Homo sapiens: one gene and its partners. The protein of the gene in region 1 binds, or shares a complex with, the protein of each later gene. Each region holds a gene or a part of one and is shown on either strand. Other genes may lie near its edges.

Region 1 (6,835 bases):
CCTTGAATCGTGTGGGTTTTCCCTGAGTTAGTGACTCCATATGTATAGATGAGCCAGTTCTGCCCTTTGAGTACATCCTTTACCATCTCCTTCACAGTTAGGTTGAAGAAGGATGCCTGTCCCACTTCTGGCCCAAAGATCTAGAGAGAGACCCAGTTTTTTAGAGGCCTCTCCTTCATCTCCCACTTGCCTCCTGTGCAGAGCCAGCAGATATATTCCTTCCTGAGTGGTTGGCTCTGGAGACCACTCAAGCAGCTTCTTCCTGCAATGCTGCTGGCTGTTCCCTAAACACTGAGGACTCAAGCACTCTCTGCTAGTCCATCTTTCCACCAAATCAACAAACACTTAAGGAATGCTATGCCCTAGGCCTGATGCTGCACACACAATGGGGCAATATAATGGCCCACAAGTATGGGCTTTGGAGATACATGGATCTAGACTCAGGTCCTAACTCTACTAGTGACTAGCTACATGGCTTCAGCAATATTACATTCATTGAGCCACACTATCCTTGTGAGGAAAATAAGGAAATAATGATAATAACAATAGAATTTTTCAGAACTGATATACATATGTTACTTGACACATTGACTAACACATAACTAGGGCCCTCAAAATTGTAGGTGTGCATATACAAGGAACTCACAGTCAGGAAGAGAAGCTTTCCCTCTAAAGAGGGAATAAAGTTGCCCTTACATGTTGGTCTTTTGTTCACAAACCAGTACCCTCCATACCTGGGAAAAGGTGAACCTGTGTGTGGCTTGGCCAATTCCCCGTTCATTGCTCTTCAGGGCAAAAGAGTCCTTGGGTGCTTGTAGAACAAGGGTCTCCACATTCTCAATACGGACACAACCCTGAGAAGGGAGAAAATACAGTTGTCACAGAAGGCATTCCTGGGAATCTTTTGTACTGCATCATTTCACCTTGAATCCTCCCTTCTCAGACACTTACCTGATCTTCCTGTCGTTCCAACTCTGAAGGTAACAAGGGCCTAACCCTCAAGTATACTTTCACCTTCTCCATACTGTCCTCAGATGGAACCTGTGGCAGAATCCCAGCCCAGAACCACAGATTAATTTCAGCAGTTACCTCTGAGCAAATGGGCAAACAGTAGTTTCTAGGAACTATGATAACACTACCCCATTTCACCTCAAATGTCTCTGTGCAGCTACTCTTTGGTTCCACAATCATTCCAACCCACATGGACATTTTTACTACTTTGTCACCCTTCCCTGTCTCGTCATTATCCTGCAAATGTGGCTTGCCACACCGATGATCTGAGTTCGAATTTATTGACTGGTATGAAAATTAGTATGTGATATTAAAGCAAAGCAGAGGCAAACACTTGAATTTGAGTCCCAATTCCATGACTTAGTAACTATGAGACCTTGAATTATGAGTTCTTGAAATTCTTGGCCTCAGTTTCCTCATCTGCAGAATGGGGTTAATAATAGCACCTATGTCATTCATTCAACAGATACTTAGAGGCTGGGTGCAGGGGCTCACGCCTATAATCCCGGCACTTTGGGAGGCCAAAGAGGGTGGATCACCTGAGGTCAGGAGTTCCAGACCAGTCTGGCCAACACAGCAAAACCCCATCTCTACTAAAAATACAAAAATTAGCTGGGCTTGGTGGTAGGTGCCTGTAATTCCAGCTACTCAGGAGGCTGAGGCAGGGAGAACTGCTTGAACCCGGGAGGCGGAGGTTGCAGTGAGCAGAGATTGTGCCACTGCACACCAGCCTGGGGGACAGAGCGAGACTCCATCTCGAAAACAAAAAAACCCAAAAAACAAAAAAAACCCAGATATTTAGAGTGTCTACTATGGCCTAGGAACCGAGAAGCTCTGATAGTCCATAGTGAGAGACATCATCAAGGACCATGCTCTCATGGAACTTTATAAGTCTCTAAGAGAAACTCTATAAGAGCACAAAATCTGACAATGTATGTTAATGTTTAGCATAGGACCTAGTACAGTGTTTCTCAACCAGGGTCATTTCCACTCCAAGGGCCATTTAGCAATGCCTGAAGTGCCTGAAGACATTTTTTGATTGTCACAAATGGGAAGGCACTACTGACATCTAGTGGGTAAATGCCAAGAATGCTATTAAACATCTTGAAATGTACAGGACAGATCCCTACAAGAACTGTCTAGCCCCAAATGTCAATAATGCTGTAACTGAGAAACCCTGGCCTAGCAGGAAACCTACAACAAATTGAAGCTATGGTGATACTATTAAAACCTGAACATACATTCCACTTACATAATGCCTATATGACCTTGTGCAAATTATTTAGCACAACTGGGCCTCAAGGCAAAGAGAGATAACTATTATTCCCTGAAAGATTAACTAAGAGCATGCATTTGAGGCTATTTCATTAATGCAATGCAAATTATAGTTCTTCTGGACACACAACTCAATTTTTTTTTTACTTGTCATGCCCTTAATTTTTTTTTCTTTTTTTCTTTTCATAGCCATTTTGTCCTAAATGCCCTTAATTTTGAATTGATCTCAGACCTTTAGGATTGCTAGTCTTTGACCTCATACTACCCTGTATGGACAATTATTGGCCTGAGGATATCACTTTCCGCCCCAGCCACTCCCCAGTTCCTTTACCTGCTGCTTGTCCTCTAGGGAGGTAGAGACGACAGAGCAGTCTGATAGCAGGTTCTTGCGTACCACAGACCCCAAATCTGCAGCTGTGGACTCAAACATGGGAGAAACTACGACATCGTCATCGGACAGCAAGCCCGCTGGCGGAGAAAGGATCCCTTGCGACATGACGGCAGGGGCAGCCTAGGTCTAAAAAGAGACCAAAAAGTGGGCAGGGAGAAGAACCTTTAGGGACAGAAGGGGCCGCGAATTTTAGGTAATAAGTCCCTTGCCCCAGGACACCGTGTCCCGCTTCCTACTTCTTTTCCCCTCCAATTATCGGCAAAGGGGAAGGGAATGAGAGAAGTTCACTTAATGAACAATTGAGAGAAGTTTGAGGCGGCATTTCTGAACGCGAACAGAAGTCCACAGACATCTGGCTCCAAAAGCAGAAGGCTACGCCTAAAGTAGGGCACCTCGCCCGCCGGTGCTGTGGAGGTGGTGTCAGGATCCCTCGGCTCCTTCTCTAACCTCACCCCAAGGACCACCGTGAGAACAGAGATGCAGCATTAAGAGAAAAACAGATGGCTGCAGCTCCGATTTCTTAAAGCCTATTCCGCGCGGGCAAGAGCTGGTAACCCGGGCTCCAGCACAGCCGCACACTCACCCGAAGACGTGCCACTTGCTCCTCCTGGGATACTGGCTTACTCACACCTAGTCGCCGAAGCTGGACTTTCGCAGCCGCAGAGCACAACTCCGCCCACGAGGTGCAGCTTTGTTACAGATACAATATTTTAAATTACGCGCTGCGTTCGTTCGGCCAATCAGATAGGGAAGCCTGCAGCTACCAATCCGCGTAAGGAAAGGGGGCGGGCCTGACTGGAATTCCAGTCGTTCGCTTCTGCTTGACCTCTGAGTTCTAATGTGGGTCCGGGTTACCAACTGTCGTGGATTCGCACTTATTTTGCCTGGGATTCTTCCAACTTAACCTTTTTCCTTGAACCTTAGACATTTCTTACCTAAGAGCCTAAAGGAAATCTTGAGGCTTCAGCAGCCAACTCCTGTCCTTCCTTAGCAACAATCTTAACAGGAGTGCACAGGGTAACTGGTTTAGGGTGCTTGCTTTGTCTTAAGGGGAAAAACGACATTTCCCAGGAGGCACCGCGAACCAACGCCGGTACACTATTTCCCAGAATTCCAGGGTTTCGGCCCTTCCAGACCGTCTCTCCTCAGGGTTGGAGACTTCGGGGCCAAGATGGCGACGGGAACGGGCAGTGAGTATCTGAGCAGGTTTTGCGTGAAAGGCCTTTGTAGATCCGAGGCTAGGCACCATATTTTTGTTACACGCTTAGGGAGTGGGAGAAGTGGGTTGCTTGAGAGCCCAGGGTTTTCAGAGACCTGCGCTCTACAGCATCGTGAAGACCAACGTTTGGGGGCCCAGAAATCTGGGGTCTTGTTTCTCAGGGAGAGAGCGGAGGTGTGAGAGAAGCAGCTTAGTGAATCCTAGTGTGTTAGGAACTCTGCGGGTTAACCGTAAAAGCACTCTAGAAACTTGGGCGTGCAGACGAAAAGATGTTATGAGCCAGACGGAGTAACCGGCACCTCAAAGAGCCATTCATTTTTTTGTCTGACGTTTGTGAGGCAGTGGAAGTGGGGTCTTTTAACCATGAGCTTTTCTTGCCACTCAGGAAATTGCATCTCGGGGATTTCAGCCATTTTTCTTTTTTTGGACTGAAAAGCTCTTTTACCCCCGACATTTGGAGTAGAGGATCTGAGAGAAGTAAACAAGTTTATGCTAAGAGGGAGGCGGGGTAGTAGGAGGGGCTGGCCGCTCGGGTTCCTGGGAAATAAGCCCTGAATAAGTTCAAACTGGAATAAAGTCCAGTATTCTTAAAACTGGGCTTTTAGGGAGAACTGCCTAATCTGACATTCCCTGTTTCTTAATAAAGCGGAGCTTCAAGCCATGGCGTTTTAAGAAATAAAATGTTAATAATTCACATGCAACGAATAGGTACCCCGGTCACTGGTGATATTTCACTTGGAGAGGTGAAAATCAAGATTTGGTTATAGTAGCTCACTTTGTCCTAACAAGTTGGGATGTTTTGTATTAGGCTTTTAGTCCTCTTTTTGGGGATTTTGGAGCTTAGCACTACAGTCTCAGTGGTTGTTTCCAAGGCTTTTTTTTTTTTCTCCCTTTCCCAGAACACAAGCTGCTAAGCACTGGCCCCACAGAGCCATGGTCCATCCGAGAGAAGCTATGTTTAGCATCTTCTGTCATGAGAAGTGGCGATCAAAATTGGTAAGGTATCTAGGATGTCAGCTTTTCTGGGTCTTAGAAATTGTTAGATACTCTTTCACATCGGTAGATTTCTATAGTTAATCATATTAAGCTGTAAGTAGACTTTCTTTTCTTTTTCTTCTTTTTTTGAGACTGAGTCTCCTTCTGTTGCCCAGGCTGGAGTGCAGTGGTGCGGACACGCCCAGCTAATTTTTGTATTTTTTAGTAGAGACAGAGTTTCGCCATGTTGGCCAGGCTGGTCTCGAACTCCTGACCTCAGGTGATCCCCCCACCTCGGCCTGCCAGAGTGCTGGGATTACAGGTGTGAGCCACTGCGCCTGGCCATGCCTGGCTAATTTTGTATTTTTAGTAGAGACGGGGTTTCACCATGTTGGCCACGATGGTCTCAATCTCCTGACCTCATGATCTGTCCGCCTCGGCCTCCCAAAGTGCTGGGATTACAGGCGTGAGCCACTGCCAGGCCTATTTTTTTTTTTTTTTTTTTGAGACAAGATTGCACTCTGTGGCCCAGGCTGGAGGGCAGTGGTGTGATCTTGGCTCACTGCAACCTCCATATCTCAGGCTCAAATGATCCTCCACCTCAGCCTCTTGAGTAGCTGGGACTACAGGTGCACACCACCATGCCCAGCTAATTTTTTTTATTTTTTTGTAGAGATGGGGGTTTCATCATGTTTCCTAGGCTGGTCTCGAACTCCTGCGTTCGAGCGATCCGCCCAACCTACTGGGATTACAGGTGTGAGCCACCAGGCCAGCTGTATTTCTTTTTTTAAACAGCTTTATTGAGATATAATTCACATACTATAAAATTAACCTACTTAAAATGTACAATATAATGGTTTTTAGTATATTCACAGTTGTGCAACCATCACCACAATCTAATTTTAGAACATTTTATTCTAAGAAAAACCCCTTACTCCTTAACTGTCAGTCCATGTTGTCCCCTCCTCACCACCCCCAAGCAAGCACTCATCTACTTTCTATTAATTAATTAATTAATTTGAGACAGAGTCTCACTGTCACACAGGCTGGAGTGTAGTAGTTAGATCTTGGCTCACTGCAACCTCCGCCTCCCAGGTTCAAGCGATTATCGTGCCTTAGCCTCCCAAGTAGCTGGGATTACAGCCATGCGCCACGAGTGGCCTGGCTAATTTTTGTATTTTTAGTAGAGATGAGGTTTTGTCCAGGCTGGTCTTGAAGTAATGCACCAGTCCTGGCCTCCAAAAGTGCTGGGATTACAAGTGTGAGCCACCATACCCAGCCAACTCTCTTGTCTCTGTAGATTTGCCTATTCTGGATATTTCATACAAATGGAATGATACGTGCTCTTCTGGACTTTTTTTTGTTTTTTTTAATCACTTGACATAACACTTTTTAAGGTTCATTCTTATGTAGCATGTATCAATACTTAATTCCTTTTTTAGCTGAATAATAATCTGTTGTATGAATATACCAAGTTTTATTTATCCATCACTTGATAGACAATTGGGTTGTTTCCACTTTTTGGCCATTATGAATAATGCTGATGATGTGCACATTCGTGTACAAGGTTGTGGACAATGTTTTTAATTCTCTTGAGTTTTTTATTCAAGGAGTGAAATTGCTGGGTTATGTAGTAACTTTATTATGTTTGACTTTTTTTTTTTTTTTTTTTTTTTTTTGCAGACAGGGTCTCACTGTCACCCAGGCTGGAGTGCAGTAGTGCGATCGTGGTTCACTGCAACCTCTGCCTCCTGGGCTCAAGTGATCCTCCGGCCTCAGCCTCCTGAGTAGCCGGGACTACAGGCACATGCCATCACCCCTGGCTAATTTTTGTATTTTTTGGTAGGGATGGGGTTTTGCCATGTTGCCCAGGCTGAACTTTTTTTTTTTTTTTAATTTAAATATTTATGTTTTTGTAGAGACGAGGTCCCACTATGTTCCCCAGGCTGGTCTCCAACTCTTGG
Region 2 (6,980 bases), on another chromosome or scaffold:
GAGCACATCTCTGCAAAAATAAAAGTATTAGTTGGGTGTGGTGGCATCCACCTGTAGTCCCAGCTACTGGGGAGGCTGAGGCAGGAGGATCACTTGAACCCAGGAGCTGCAAGCTGCAGTGAGCCATGATCATGCCACTGTGCTCCAGCCTGGGAGACAGAACAAGACGCTGTTTCAAAAAAAAAAAAAAAAAAAAGGTGAGATAGGCCTGTATGTAATTTGAACAATCTCCAAGATATATTATTATGTTAAAAAAGAATACAACTGGGCCGGGCGTGGTGGCTCACGCCTGTAATCCCAGCACTTTGGGAGGTTGAGGCGGGCGGATCACAAGGTCAAGAGATCGAGACCATCCTGGCCAACTTGGTGAAACCCTGTCTCTACTAAAAATACAAAACTTAGCCGGGCATGGTGGCGGGCGTCTGTAATCCCAGCTACTTAGGAGGCTGAGGCAGGAGAATCGCTGGAATCCGGGAGGCGGAGGTTGCAGTGAGCCGAGATCTCACCACTGCACTCCAGCCTGGCGAAAGAGCGAGACTCCGTCTCAAAAAAAAAAAAAAAAAAGAATGCAACTGAACAATATGTACAGACCATTTATGGTTAAAAAAAAAAAATGGAGAAAAATGCACACGCCAAATGGTGGGAAGGTAAATGGGGGGAGCGGGGAATAAACATGTTCCTTAAGTTTTGCCCTGTATTTTATATTTCTCAATTGTTGCATCATGAGCCCAAATATTTGAATATTACCTGTGTAATTAACACATAAAGGCAAATAAGTTAACTTCAATACAAAAGAAGAAATAACACAAAGAGGGTTCTAGGATAAAAAAACTCATGGATTCCCAAACAACTCATAACAGTGGGGGAACTGGGCAGATGAGGGGTGGAGGTGGGAAAGAGACTTTCACTATTTTCTTTTTTTTTTTTTTTTTGAGATGGAGCCTCACTCTGTCGCCCAGGCTGGAGTGCAGTGGCGTAATCTCGGCTTACTGCAAGCTCCGCCTCTTGGGTTCATGCCATGCTCCTGCCTCAGCCTCCTGAGTAGCTGGGACTACAGGCGCCCACCACCACGCCCAGCTAATTTTTTATATTTTTAGTAGAGATGGAGTTTCACCGTGTTAGCCAGGATGGTCTTGATCTCCTGACCTCGTGATCCGCCTGCCTTGGCTTCCCAAAGTGCTGGGATTACAGGCGTGAGCCACCGCGCCCGGCCCACTATTTTCATTTTTGTATTTTTAAACGTTTGGATTAAAAAAGTATGTGCAGGCTGGGCGCAGTGGCTCACGTCTGTAATCCCAGCACTTTGAGAGGCCGAGGCGGGTGGATCACCTGAGGTCAGGAGTTCGAGAACAGCCTGGCCAACATGGTGAAACCCCATCCCTACTAAATATACAAAAATTAGCCGGCCATAGTGGTATGCGCCTGTAAACCCAGCTACTTGGGAGGCTGAGGCAGAAGAATCGCTTCAATCTAGGAGGTGGAGGCTGCAGTGAGCTGAGACTGCACCACTGCACTCTAGCCTGGGTGACAGAGTGAGACTTGGTCTCATAACAACAACAACAACAAAAAATTGGCTGGGCGCAGTGGCTCATGCCTGTAATCCCAGCACTTTGGTAGGCCAAGGCAGGAGGATCATAAGGTCAGGAGATCGAGACCATCCTGGCCAACATGGTGAAACCCCATCTCCACTAAGATACAAAAAAGTAGCTGGGCGTGATGGCACACCGAGTCCCAGCAACTCAGGAGGCTGAGGCAGGGGAATCGCTTGAACCCAAGAGGCAGAGGTTGCAGTGAGCTGAGACTGTGCCACTGCACTCCAGCCTGGCTACGGAGCGAGACTGTCTCAAAAAAATAATTTAAAAAAAGTACGTATTTTATATTCAATAAAAAATTTAAAAGTGTACAGGACAGTTTTGGTGGGGTGGGGTCCAAAGAAGCCCTTGTCCCTTTTTACAATTTAGCAATGGTGTCCAAGGGAGTGAATACAGTCATGGGTTCTTAGTTTCTGTTTCTGGTTGGGCCAGTAAAGCCCCTTCCTCATCCCCCTTTTCCACTTATCACTAGAGACTGAAACTAAAAACCATGGCTTCAGGGTGCTAAAAGCCTAAACAAAACAAAACAAAACAACAACAAAATAAGACAGGTTGGACAAGCTTGCGAGAAGTAGTCGTGACAAGATGGTGTATATTCAACTGGAATAAGGAAGGTTTTTGTGGGTTTCTGTTGTCAGAGAAGGGGTTGTGTTAAAAAGACTGAAGGAGAAATGGAAGTCAGATAAATGGAGAGGGGCCCGGAATTGGTGGGGTGTGGAACCCGGGCAGGGGAGGGCTTAGAAAAGCCATGGAGACAGGCTGGGCGCAGTGGCTCACGCCTGTAATCCCAGCACTCTGGGAGGCCGAGGCCAGCGGGTCACCTAAGGTCGGGAGTTCAAGACCAGCCTGACTAACATGAAGAAACCCCATCTCTACAAAAACACAAAAATTAGCCCGGTGTGGTGTCACATGCCTGTAATCCCAGCTACTCGGGAGGCTGAGGCAGGAGAATCGCTTGAACCTGGGAGGCAGAGGTTGCAGTGAGCTGAGATCGCGCCTTTGCACTACAGCCTGGTTAATAAGAGGGAAACTCCGTCTCAGAAAGAAAAAAAAAAAAAAGAAAAGTCATGGAGACAAAGGTTTGCGTAGGAGGATAAAGGTTTACATAGGGGATGCAGGTAGGCTAAGGGCTGTTTGTGGAAGGATTTAAATACCAGGCTAAGGACTTTGAGATTTATCGTCTAAAGTTCATTGAGCACTTATTCATTGTTGGGTACCGCGCTAAGCCCGTATATGTAATTCTCACAATAAACTGACGGAAATGGTGCTATTTTGCAGCTTAGCCAACAAAGTTGTTTTTGAACAGGGAACGACATAAATCCGTTTGTTTAGGCCAGGCACGGTGGCTCACGCCTGTAATCCCAGAACTTTGGAAGGCCAAACCGGGCGGATCACGAGGTCAGGAGTTCCAGACCAGCCTGGCCAACATGGTGAAACCCAGTATCTACTAAAAATACAAAAATTAGCTGGGCGTGGTGGCACATGCCTGTAATCCCAGCTACTCCGGAGGCTGAGGCAGGAGAATCGATTGAACCTGGGAGGCGAAGGCTGCAGTAAGCAGAGATCGCGCCACTGCACTCCAGTCTGGGCAACGGAGCGACACTCCATCTCAGAAAAAAAAAAAAAGGTATAATATTGAAGAAATCCGTTTGTTTAGAGTGACAAGAAGCACAAACAGGGCAGGTACGGAATACAGACGTTGACATATTCACACTAGCCTTTTTCAGAAAGCAGAGCTCCATTATCTCAAAAAGCTAAAGCGTGACTAGTGTTTCCCACGTCATCATCCTCATTTCCGCAAGGCTGGGCTGGAGAAGAGGAGGTAGACCTAGGAGCCAACAAATGGCTATCAATCCCACCAAATAGGCTCCGCAGTGGGGTTGCTAAACAACGAAGCTTCCAGAAGCGGACCCCAGTTCCCACCCTCTTGCTGATCCTAAAGCCTTTCTATGCAAAAACTAGCGGAATGCTATTGAATGTAGGTTTCCGAGCCAGCCCTATTCTCTCCGACTACTTCAACATCAACGGGGGCTTATTTGCCCAAGGGACGTCGCAACTGGGCCTTTCCCATTCTATTATCACTGGTGGCTCACCACCCCCACTCTCCCCCATCGCCAGCTCCGCCTTAACCTCCCACGAAATCAAATCCCCGCTTTACCAACCCGCAGCAGCCGGGGGCATGGAGAGAGAAGCGGGGGTGGGGTGGGGTAGGGTAGCCGGCCCCTCCCCCACCCGGGGGGGGGGGGGGGGCGCCTCCACCGACTCCGAACTACCAGTCCCGGCGTGCCCTGGGGCGGCGCGGGCGCAGGGGCGCGTGCGCGGCGGGCTGTCGTTGGCTGGAGCAGCGGCTGCGCGGGTCGCGGTGCTGTGAGGTCTGCGGGCGCTGGCAAATCCGGCCCAGGATGTAGAGCTGGCAGTGCCTGACGGCGCGTCTGACGCGGAGTTGGGTGGGGTAGAGAGTAGGGGGCGGTAGTCGGGGGTGGTGGGAGAAGGAGGAGGCGGCGAATCACTTATAAATGGCGCCGAAGCAGGACCCGAAGCCTAAATTCCAGGAGGGTGAGTGTGCGCCTTTGGGAAAAAGGCACCTAACGGCGCAGGAGATAGAGGCGGGCTCGAGGTGATTGAGGCTTGAGGGCCGGGGGCGGCGCGGGCTGCGCCCTGAGAAGGCGGCGGTCAGTGCTTTGTGCGGGGAAAGCGCATTGCGGATGGCAATTCCGGTGCGTCATTGTGAGAAAGCGCTTTGTGAAGCGAGAGTGCTGCGCAGGCGTTAGAGTGGGAGAGAGAGCGTTTGGCGCGTGGCACACCCTCGTCAAGTGTTTGTTATTGTTCTGAGGAAGAGGGCGCGGAGAGAGCAGCCTATTGTAGGGAGGCGACGGGAGCGCCATGGCGGCGGTTAGGGGAAGTGATGTGGCGGCGGGGGGGGAGGGGCGGTGGCTGTTTCGGGCGGTCCTGCGGCGCGCCCGGCCGCTTGGGCAGCTACGACGGGTTTTTCGGTGCTTCCTGGAGCCCCGGGGTGGTTGCGTTCGGTGGCAACTCAGCTGCGGATGGGGGTGGGTTTGGCGCCACGGGGCGGGAGAAGTGCGTTGTAAAATGGCCGTTGCAAGATGGCGGCGCCATCATGGCCGCCGGCGTCTCGGTCCCGTATGGAGGCACAGCTTACGGGCAGATGCAGCGCCCCCTTCCACGACGACCAGAAGGTTGCCGGGGCCCTCCGCATACCACAGAGTGGTGGGTGGGGACAGAAAAAAAAAAGTGAGATGAGCGTTTTCCTCCGCTTTGTGTTGCCTGGAGGCATCACTCTGCTATTCTTGGGCGCAGTGCCGAGATCCTATGGTAATGTGAGTGAGCTCTCGCTTTGCAGTTGCTCGTAAAAAGTAAATAAAAATGATCTGAATGCAGTGTTGACGCCGTTTGCATTTGTAAGTCCCATTGCCTCGACGTCATTTTTTAAATGCAGTAATTGTTTGATTAGTTGCAGTGTTTAACAATGACTTGAAAGTTGAATTTCTTTTTATTAATTGGTTTTCGATTGACATGAGTTTTGGGTAAGGTTAGACTGACTCCCAGTGGAAGGCAGCTCTTTAAATTTTCACAACGCTTCAGTTAACGTATAATAAGGTGGAGGTCTAATAGCTAAAAAGGAAGTAAAGTCCTGTTGAGAAAGGAGGAACACTTTAACATTCCTTTTCATTGCTATGGAAATTTATGCTAGTTACCGTAAATACGATGTCTACATGCGTACGATTTTTGTTCTAGGGGTTTTTAGACTTGCATTAGAATTCCTTTTAGAGCCGTAAACCTCAAACCGTAGTACTGCGTATTTTAAGTTTATGGAATATTTAAGGAGGTTTTAGGGGTATTTTGTTAATGAGTGACTTTTTTTGTTTGTATTTTTGAGACGATGTTTGTCACCCAGGCTGTAGTGCAGTGACGCTATCTCGGCTCACCTCTGCCCCCCACCCGGGCTAAAGCGAGCCTCCCAAGTAGCTGGGATCACAGACGCGCGCCATCACGTCCGGCTAAGTTTTGTTTTGTTCTGTTTTGTTTTTTAGGGTTTTTGTTTTTTCTTTTCTTTTTCTTTCTTTTTTTTTTTTTTTTTTTGTATTTTTGGTAGAGACGGGGTTTCATGTTGCCCAGGCTGGTCTCGAACTCCTGGGCTTGAGCGATCCACCCGCCTCGGCCTCCCAAAGTTGTGGGGGGTTAACGGGCGTGAGGCATCGCTCTCGGCCGTGTGACTTTTAATACCCCTCTCTCACCTTGAGAAGCTGTTGACTCTACCTCCTATGGGTTCATTATTTTACTAGACATTTTAGAGCAGATATTCTTAATCTAGAGTCAGTGCATTAATTGAGACGGTGCGTGAAATTGAGGAAGATTTTTTTTTCTATCTCCCAAGTTTAGTATTTCAATTAACAGTGTAATTGCTCCCCCTAAACCCCGAAAAAAACCACCACATTAGCATTTTCAGTATATTTTCATATCTCAACATTACAGTTATGGAAGATGTTTTCAGTTATCGCATTCTTATTTCTTCAAAATTAGGGTAGTTATTGTATTAGCAGCCAAGTCTTGTTTGTCCTGTAATGTCATAGAACGTGACATTTAAAGTGTTTTGTTTCAGTACAGTTGGTTTCCTTTGTACTAGTGTGTGTTTTATGTATTTATGAAACTATTAGGCTCGTAGGGTTTATCAGACTGTCAAGGCACAAAAAGTTAATCGCTGCTGTGGGAACAACCTAAGGATGGCTGTTCTGGAAGAAGCGCTTTAGTTCTAGAGGGTTGCTAGTTAAGAGAGGAGTAGCAGCAGAGATTTCCTTGTGCCGTTTTAAGTGGGGTAATTGGAGAAGAGTAGGAACCAAGGTATCCCCAGGTAAGGGTTTGAAAGCTGTGTAAGAGAGTCTGTATTTAACATTACTTTCCAGGTGTGTTTTGTACTTGTGTTTAAAATGGAATTGTGTAACCACGTTTTAAAAATGATTTTAGTGGGTGGGGCACGGTGGCTCACGCCTCTAATCCCAGCACTTTGGGAGGCCGAGGTGGGTGGGGGCGGTGGATCACCTGAGGTCAGCGGTTCGAGACCAGCCTGGTCAGCCTGGTGAGCCTGGTGAAACCCAGTCTCTACTAAAAATACAAAAATTAGCAGGGCGTGGTGTTAGGCTCCTGTAATCCCGGCTACTCGGGCGGCTGAGACAGGAAATCGCTTGAACCCGGGAGTCGGAGGTTGCAGTAGGCCGAGATCCTGCCATCGCACTCCAGCCTGGGCCACAGAGTGAGACTCCATTTCAAAAAAAAAAAAAATTTATTAATTAGATGATCGGAGAATATCTTGCAAGGGAAAAAGAATATTTGATGAGTGCTAACAGAATCGTCTTGAAACACTGTAGAGTT
Region 3 (5,611 bases), on another chromosome or scaffold:
GTCTGCCTCTCTGGCCTGCGGTTGGGGAATGGGGTGTGGGAAGGCAGGAACAGAGGGCTTCCTGGGCTCCTGAGTCCAGGACCTGTGGGGTCAGCTTGGGAGCTCAGCTGAGGCGCTGGCCTCAGGCACATGCTCATTCCCCCACTCACACGGCCTCCAGATGCGCGTGCTGCAGGCGGTCCTGCCGCCCCTGCCTCAGGTGGTGTGCACCTACCGTGATGTGCGCTTCGAGTCCATCCGGCTCCCTGGCTGCCCGCGTGGTGTGGACCCCGTGGTCTCCTTCCCTGTGGCTCTCAGCTGTCGCTGTGGACCCTGCCGCCGCAGCACCTCTGACTGTGGGGGTCCCAAAGACCACCCCTTGACCTGTGACCACCCCCAACTCTCAGGCCTCCTCTTCCTCTAAAGACCCTCCCCGCAGCCTTCCAAGTCCATCCCGACTCCTGGAGCCCTGACACCCCGATCCTCCCACAATAAAGGCTTCTCAATCCGCACTCTGGAGGTGTCTTTCTGTGGGCTCAGGGCAACCACACATACACAGGGTGGGTGCAGCTTCCCAACCATTTTATACAGAGTCACAGTGTCAGAACTCTGGTGGAAAACAGGGTGGGGTCGGGGGATGACATCCAACTCAGGAGGTGTCCATGGTCTCGCCTTCTGTGGGGAGAAGGAAGGCCACATGGTCAGTGTCGCCCAGGTGGCAGGGCCTGAGCCTTCTACGCCGAGCTCCCTCTTCCTCCCTCTGAGGTTGGCTCTGGCAGTGCAGGTGCGGGGTGGGGATTCTTACTGAGTTCGTTGAAGAGGAAGGCGTCCTGGTACTCCTTCATGTACTGCGTGGAGCGGGACTCGTCCAGGAAGAGTGAGTAGACCCGCTTGATGTCATCCACCTGCACTTCTGTACCCTGGAGGGGGAGGGCGAGTCCTCAGTTGGGCCCCTCTCCGTGAGGCTCAAGGCACAGACCCCAGCGTATGCCACCTCCATGCTCTAGGCAGCAGAGTGTGGCATGTGAGGGGAGGGCATTCTGGGCCAGATTGCCTGGGTTCAAATCCTGCCTGGCCATCTCCTTGTTGTGGGCCCAGCCTCTTCATTCCTCAGTTTCTTTATCTGTAAGGTGGACCTAACAGCATCTACTTAAGTCAAGAGAGATTTACTGATACCTACTATAGGCCAGGCTGGATGATACAGAAGCCAACCTGAGGGATGAAAATTCCCTGCGTCTGAAAACGTACATTCTAGGATGAAATCGGAACCCTGGAAGCCCCTGAAGTACTGTGTCACTCACTGCCGCCATCTGGCCCTGCTGGCTAATTCGGCCGGCTGACCTTGCGTTTCCGGCACACCAAGCTGGCAGCTGTGATGAGCTGGATGGCGTAGCGCAGTGACGTCTCCAGCCCGATGCGGGTCAGCACCGTGTAGGCGTCCTCACTCATCTCCACATCTTCTTCCTCGCACCTGCAAGCAGTGGGGGACAGGGGTGGCTCAGCCGGGGCCCAGCCTCTGACTGCAGCAGAAGTGGCCACAGCAACCCTCTGGCCCTTCCCCACTGGGAATATGTGGCGCCTGCATCTTAGAACCATAGAATGCTGAGGCTAGAAGAGCCACGGAGACAGGGGCTGGGCTGGACCTAAAACCGAGGCCTCCTGACCACCCCCAGGGCGCTGGCCCCAACACCAGTCACGGGTACCTCGCCTCCCTTTCCCACCGTGGCTCCTGCTCCCGGATCGGAGGCCACCGTCTGGGTGCCCGCTCAGCCCTCTCTCCTGTAGGCCCAGCCACCATGCCACTCCGCTGGACCTCAGTGTCAGCATTTGTCAAACAGGGTAGACCCCAGCCCTGCGTCTCAGGCGCACGGCCTGGTCCTGCCCGCACCGGATGCGGAGGATCTGCTTCGTGTCTTTCTCGCTGTAGGGGGTGGTGGAGACGATAAGCAGCCGGTCCAGCAGGTCTATGGGGATGCCGTGAGGGCTCTGGTAGCTGGTGCCCCGGATTCTGAGGAAGAGGCAGAAAGAGGGGGCTGTCAGGGGCATGTTCCCTCTTCATTCCCTTTGCTGGGAACACTCTCACCTCCCATCGCCACCCACTCACTGGGCCCAACACCACTTAACCTTTAGCTCGCGTCTCCTGTCACATGATGACATCACCCCTGATGACGCAGCCTTCCACAGCTGCGTCAGTCCCCCAAGGGCACCTTTCCGCGGAGCTGGGCTGCTTTAAGCTAGATCTCTGCCTCCAGGATTACTGGATCAAGGTCCCACTCCCGTGCTCGACACAAAGCTTCACAAAGGAGGGGACTGCACCTGTCTTGTTCCCTGCTGCAGCGGGGCCAGCCCAGGGCTGGTGCCAGGGGATACAGTCAGTTCCCCTTATTCACAGTAGTGAGGTTCTAGAAAGTCATCGTGAACACTCCAATTAGCTGATCCTGAGCCACTGCTCCTACTGGAATACAGGGTTAGGCTCTCTCGAGCCTCGGCTTACAGTATTTTCATCAATCCATATATATATAATCTGGGTCTATGCGTATTTTCATTTGTGTGTTTCTGGTCTTTTTGGTTTGTTTTTTGAGACGGAGTCTCGCTCTGTTGCGAGGCTGGAGTGCAGTGGCGCGATCTCGGCTCACTGCAACCTCCGCCTCCCGGGTTCAACCGATCCTCCTGCCTCAGCCTCCCAAGTAGCTGGGTCTACAGGCGCACGCCATCACGCCCAGCTAGTTTTTTCTATTTTTAATACAGACAGGGTTTCACCATGTTGGCCGGGACGGTCTCATTCTCTTGACCTCGTGATCCACCCACCTCGGCCTCCCAAAGTGCTGGGATTACAGGTGTGAGCTACCGCGCCTGGCCTCATGTATGTGTGTTTCTATTTCCATGTGTTTGTTATGTAACATCACTGTTTATTCTCTAACATGGAGCTCGTGTCAACAGCATTCTAACTTGGGCTCAGCGAAGCGTCTGTAACATGGCATTTTCTCCGTCAGGCTTCACAGCCTCCTTGCACTTAGGATACTAGACAGCACTTCAACACTGTGCACAGGGGACACTTTAAATGGCAATATCACCAACAAATGGCCCCAAAAAGTTTAAAAAAAAAAGGCACAAAAAAAGTGACAACACTTTGGGAGGCTGAGGCGGGTGGATTGCTTGAGCCCAGGAGTTTGAGACCAGCCTGGGCAACATGGCAAAACACCATCTCTACAAAAAAAAAAAAAAAATTAGGCCGGACGCGGTGACTCACCCCTGTAATCTCAACACTTTGGGAGGCTGAGGTGGGCAGATCACGAGGTCAGGAGTTCGAGACCAGCCTGGCCAATATGGTGAAACCCTGTCTCTACTAAAAATACCAAAATTAGCTGGGCATGGTGGCGGGTGCCCATAATCCCAGCTACTCAGGAGGCTGAGGCAGGAAAACTGCTTGAACCCAGAAGGCAGAGGTTGCAGTGAGCCGAGATCGTGCCACTGCACTCCAGCCTGGTGACAGAGCTAGACTCCGTCTCAAAACAAAAACAGAAATTAGCTAGGCATAGTGGTGCATGCCCGTGGTCCCAGCTGATGAGGAGGCTGAGGCCAGAGGACTGATTGAGTCCCAGGGGTGGTGTGTGTGTGTGTGTGTGTGTGTGTGTGTGTGTGTGTGTGGTGGGCACTGAGGCTGCAGTGTGCCATGATCGTGCCTCTGCACTCCAGCCTGGGCGACAGAGCAAGACCCTGTCTCAAAGAACAAAAGTGACAAACGTAGCACTAAATAGAATACAACAAGGACACTTATTTACAGCATGAGCGCTAAGGGAGCAGGCAGTGTTGCCTCGTTCACACTCAGCTGGGAAAGTGGGTGTCAGGTGACTTGAATTTGTTGCCGAAAGCAGGGCAGATATTTATTTGGGGATTACAAATAAATCTTAGCAAGCGAGATTCTCAGATACAGAGTCTACGAACAATCAGGGCTGCCCGTAGCTGCTGCCTCCCACAGGAGGTGCCCCTGGGCAGTCCCCAGGCCCTGACCTGCAGTTTCTGTGAAAACACCATCAGCCCTGGGGGTCTCTTCCAGTGTCCAGCCATCCAGAGACCAAATTACGGCCCTGCTACCTTCTAGACTTGTGACCTGGGCAAGTCACTGGGCCTCACTGTCCTGCCCTATAAAATGGGGCTGAGGTGATATCTACCTTCTGAGCTTCTTCTGCGGATCCAAGGAGTTAAAAGAGCCAAACACAGAGCCAGGCCCAGCGGCCCAGCATCCTCTGTAGGGTGCCCGCTTCTTCCCTTTTGTGATGCCCATCCCAACCGCCCAGTTTCAGCTGGGCCCAAGGCTGCAGGGCTGGAGCTGACAGTACCCAGCCTTCTTTGCCACCAGGTACAGCACTGAGCCCAAGCAGTGCCGGGCAATGGAATGGGGGTGCAAGGTTGGGGTGCAGCCTGTGGATCACAGCCTATGGGGGCTGCCTGCCCTCCACATCCCCCTGCTTCCTGCGGGCCAAAATGTGGCGAGGTGGAGAAGACAGCCAGCGGGCATGGTGGCAGGTGCCCGTAATCCCAGCTACACAGGGTGCTGGCAACACCTGGGAGACGAGGTTCCCAGGCTTCAGCACAGCACAGTACCCTCTGTGTCACAGGAATCTGTCCCCGGCATCCTCAGGCCAAACACAACATTAAGAGTTCCCCGTGCACAGGGTGCTGGCAACACCTGGGAGATGAGGTTCCCAGGCTTCAGCAGAGCACGGTACCCTCTGTGTCATGGGAATCTGTCCCTGGCATCCTTAGGCCAAACACAACGCTAAGAGTTCTGTTAATGGAGTTGCTGGGTCGAAGTGACTGAACAATCGTAGTTTATGTTATGTCTAACAGATGTCACTGTGCTTCCCTCAAGACTAGAAAACATCCCACAGCACTCCTGTGAGTTTCCTGCAGCACCCTGGGGTGCCTCGGCACGCAGTTTGAAGACTGCAGCCTTGGGGGCTAAAGGAGCAGCAAGACAGAAAGGCAGCAAGAACACAGTCTCTGGGCTTCCTCGGGAAGCAGAGCTGCCTCCCACCCGCCTTTTGTAAGCAAAGAGCGCACACTGCAGTCACGCGTCCCTCCCTGACCCGGTGTCAACACAGGCTCCCATTGACCCTCTGACCACACCCACTGCCCAGAGCATCCTGTTTTCCCCAGAGGCCCCTGTAGCCGGCTCACCGCGTGATGCCACGGTTGGTGGCCATGATCAGGACAGGCGCCATGTCACTCTCCAGGGCCCGGTTGAGGAAGGAGAAGCTCTCGATGTCCAGCATGTGGACCTCGTCGATGAACAGCACCTTGGATTGGGGTGTGTGTGAGAGTCACCACCCGCGTCCCCACTTCCCCGGCCCACCTCCACCCCACCACCCGCCCCGGCCATGTCCTGGGTCCTCACTCCAGGGATGATCTCCGCCTTGCCCTCCTCGCGCCACTCAGCCACCTTGGCATTGATCTGCTCACGGACTTCTGACTTGATCTCCCCTGTGTCACCTATGGGAGGCACAGGTTGCATCAGGGAAGCCAGAGAGGAGGCGGGTTCCAGGGCCAGAGTGTGGCTAAGACAGAGAAGGATGATGCCAGGGATGGAGGAAGGGGAGCAAAGCAAGGAGGGATGAGGAGCCTGAAACAT

The links.
Region 2: BRD8 (region 1) and MORF4L1 share a complex: the UniProt entries of both Homo sapiens proteins name them as parts of the nuA4 histone acetyltransferase complex.
Region 3: BRD8 (region 1) and RUVBL2 share a complex: the UniProt entries of both Homo sapiens proteins name them as parts of the nuA4-related complex.

What each region holds. Positions count from the first base shown.
Region 1 is NC_000005.10:138,175,628-138,182,462, reverse strand, and holds the start of BRD8 (bromodomain-containing protein 8), read left to right. Parts: upstream 1-3,832; 5' UTR 3,833-3,848; coding exon 3,849-3,867; intron 3,868-4,795; coding exon 4,796-4,892; coding exon of another isoform or gene 4,893-4,897; intron 4,898-6,835. Other genes in the region: kinesin-like protein KIF20A, read right to left, coding at 2-140, 735-854, 952-1,041, 2,618-2,782. UniProt on the Homo sapiens protein: May act as a coactivator during transcriptional activation by hormone-activated nuclear receptors (NR). Isoform 2 stimulates transcriptional activation by AR/DHTR, ESR1/NR3A1, RXRA/NR2B1 and THRB/ERBA2.
Region 2 is NC_000015.10:78,868,910-78,875,889, forward strand, and holds the start of MORF4L1 (mortality factor 4-like protein 1), read left to right. Parts: upstream 1-3,980; 5' UTR 3,981-4,108; coding exon 4,109-4,148; exon of another isoform or gene 4,149-4,309; intron 4,310-6,980. UniProt on the Homo sapiens protein: Component of the NuA4 histone acetyltransferase (HAT) complex which is involved in transcriptional activation of select genes principally by acetylation of nucleosomal histones H4 and H2A.
Region 3 is NC_000019.10:49,010,860-49,016,470, reverse strand, and holds the end of RUVBL2 (ruvB-like 2), read right to left. Parts: intron 5,473-5,611; coding exon 5,378-5,472; intron 5,280-5,377; coding exon 5,161-5,279; intron 1,988-5,160; coding exon 1,868-1,987; intron 1,451-1,867; coding exon 1,321-1,450; intron 900-1,320; coding exon 785-899; intron 655-784; coding exon 629-654; 3' UTR 501-628; downstream 1-500. Other genes in the region: LHB (lutropin subunit beta), read left to right, coding at 161-403. UniProt on the Homo sapiens protein: Possesses single-stranded DNA-stimulated ATPase and ATP-dependent DNA helicase (5' to 3') activity; hexamerization is thought to be critical for ATP hydrolysis and adjacent subunits in the ring-like structure contribute to the ATPase activity.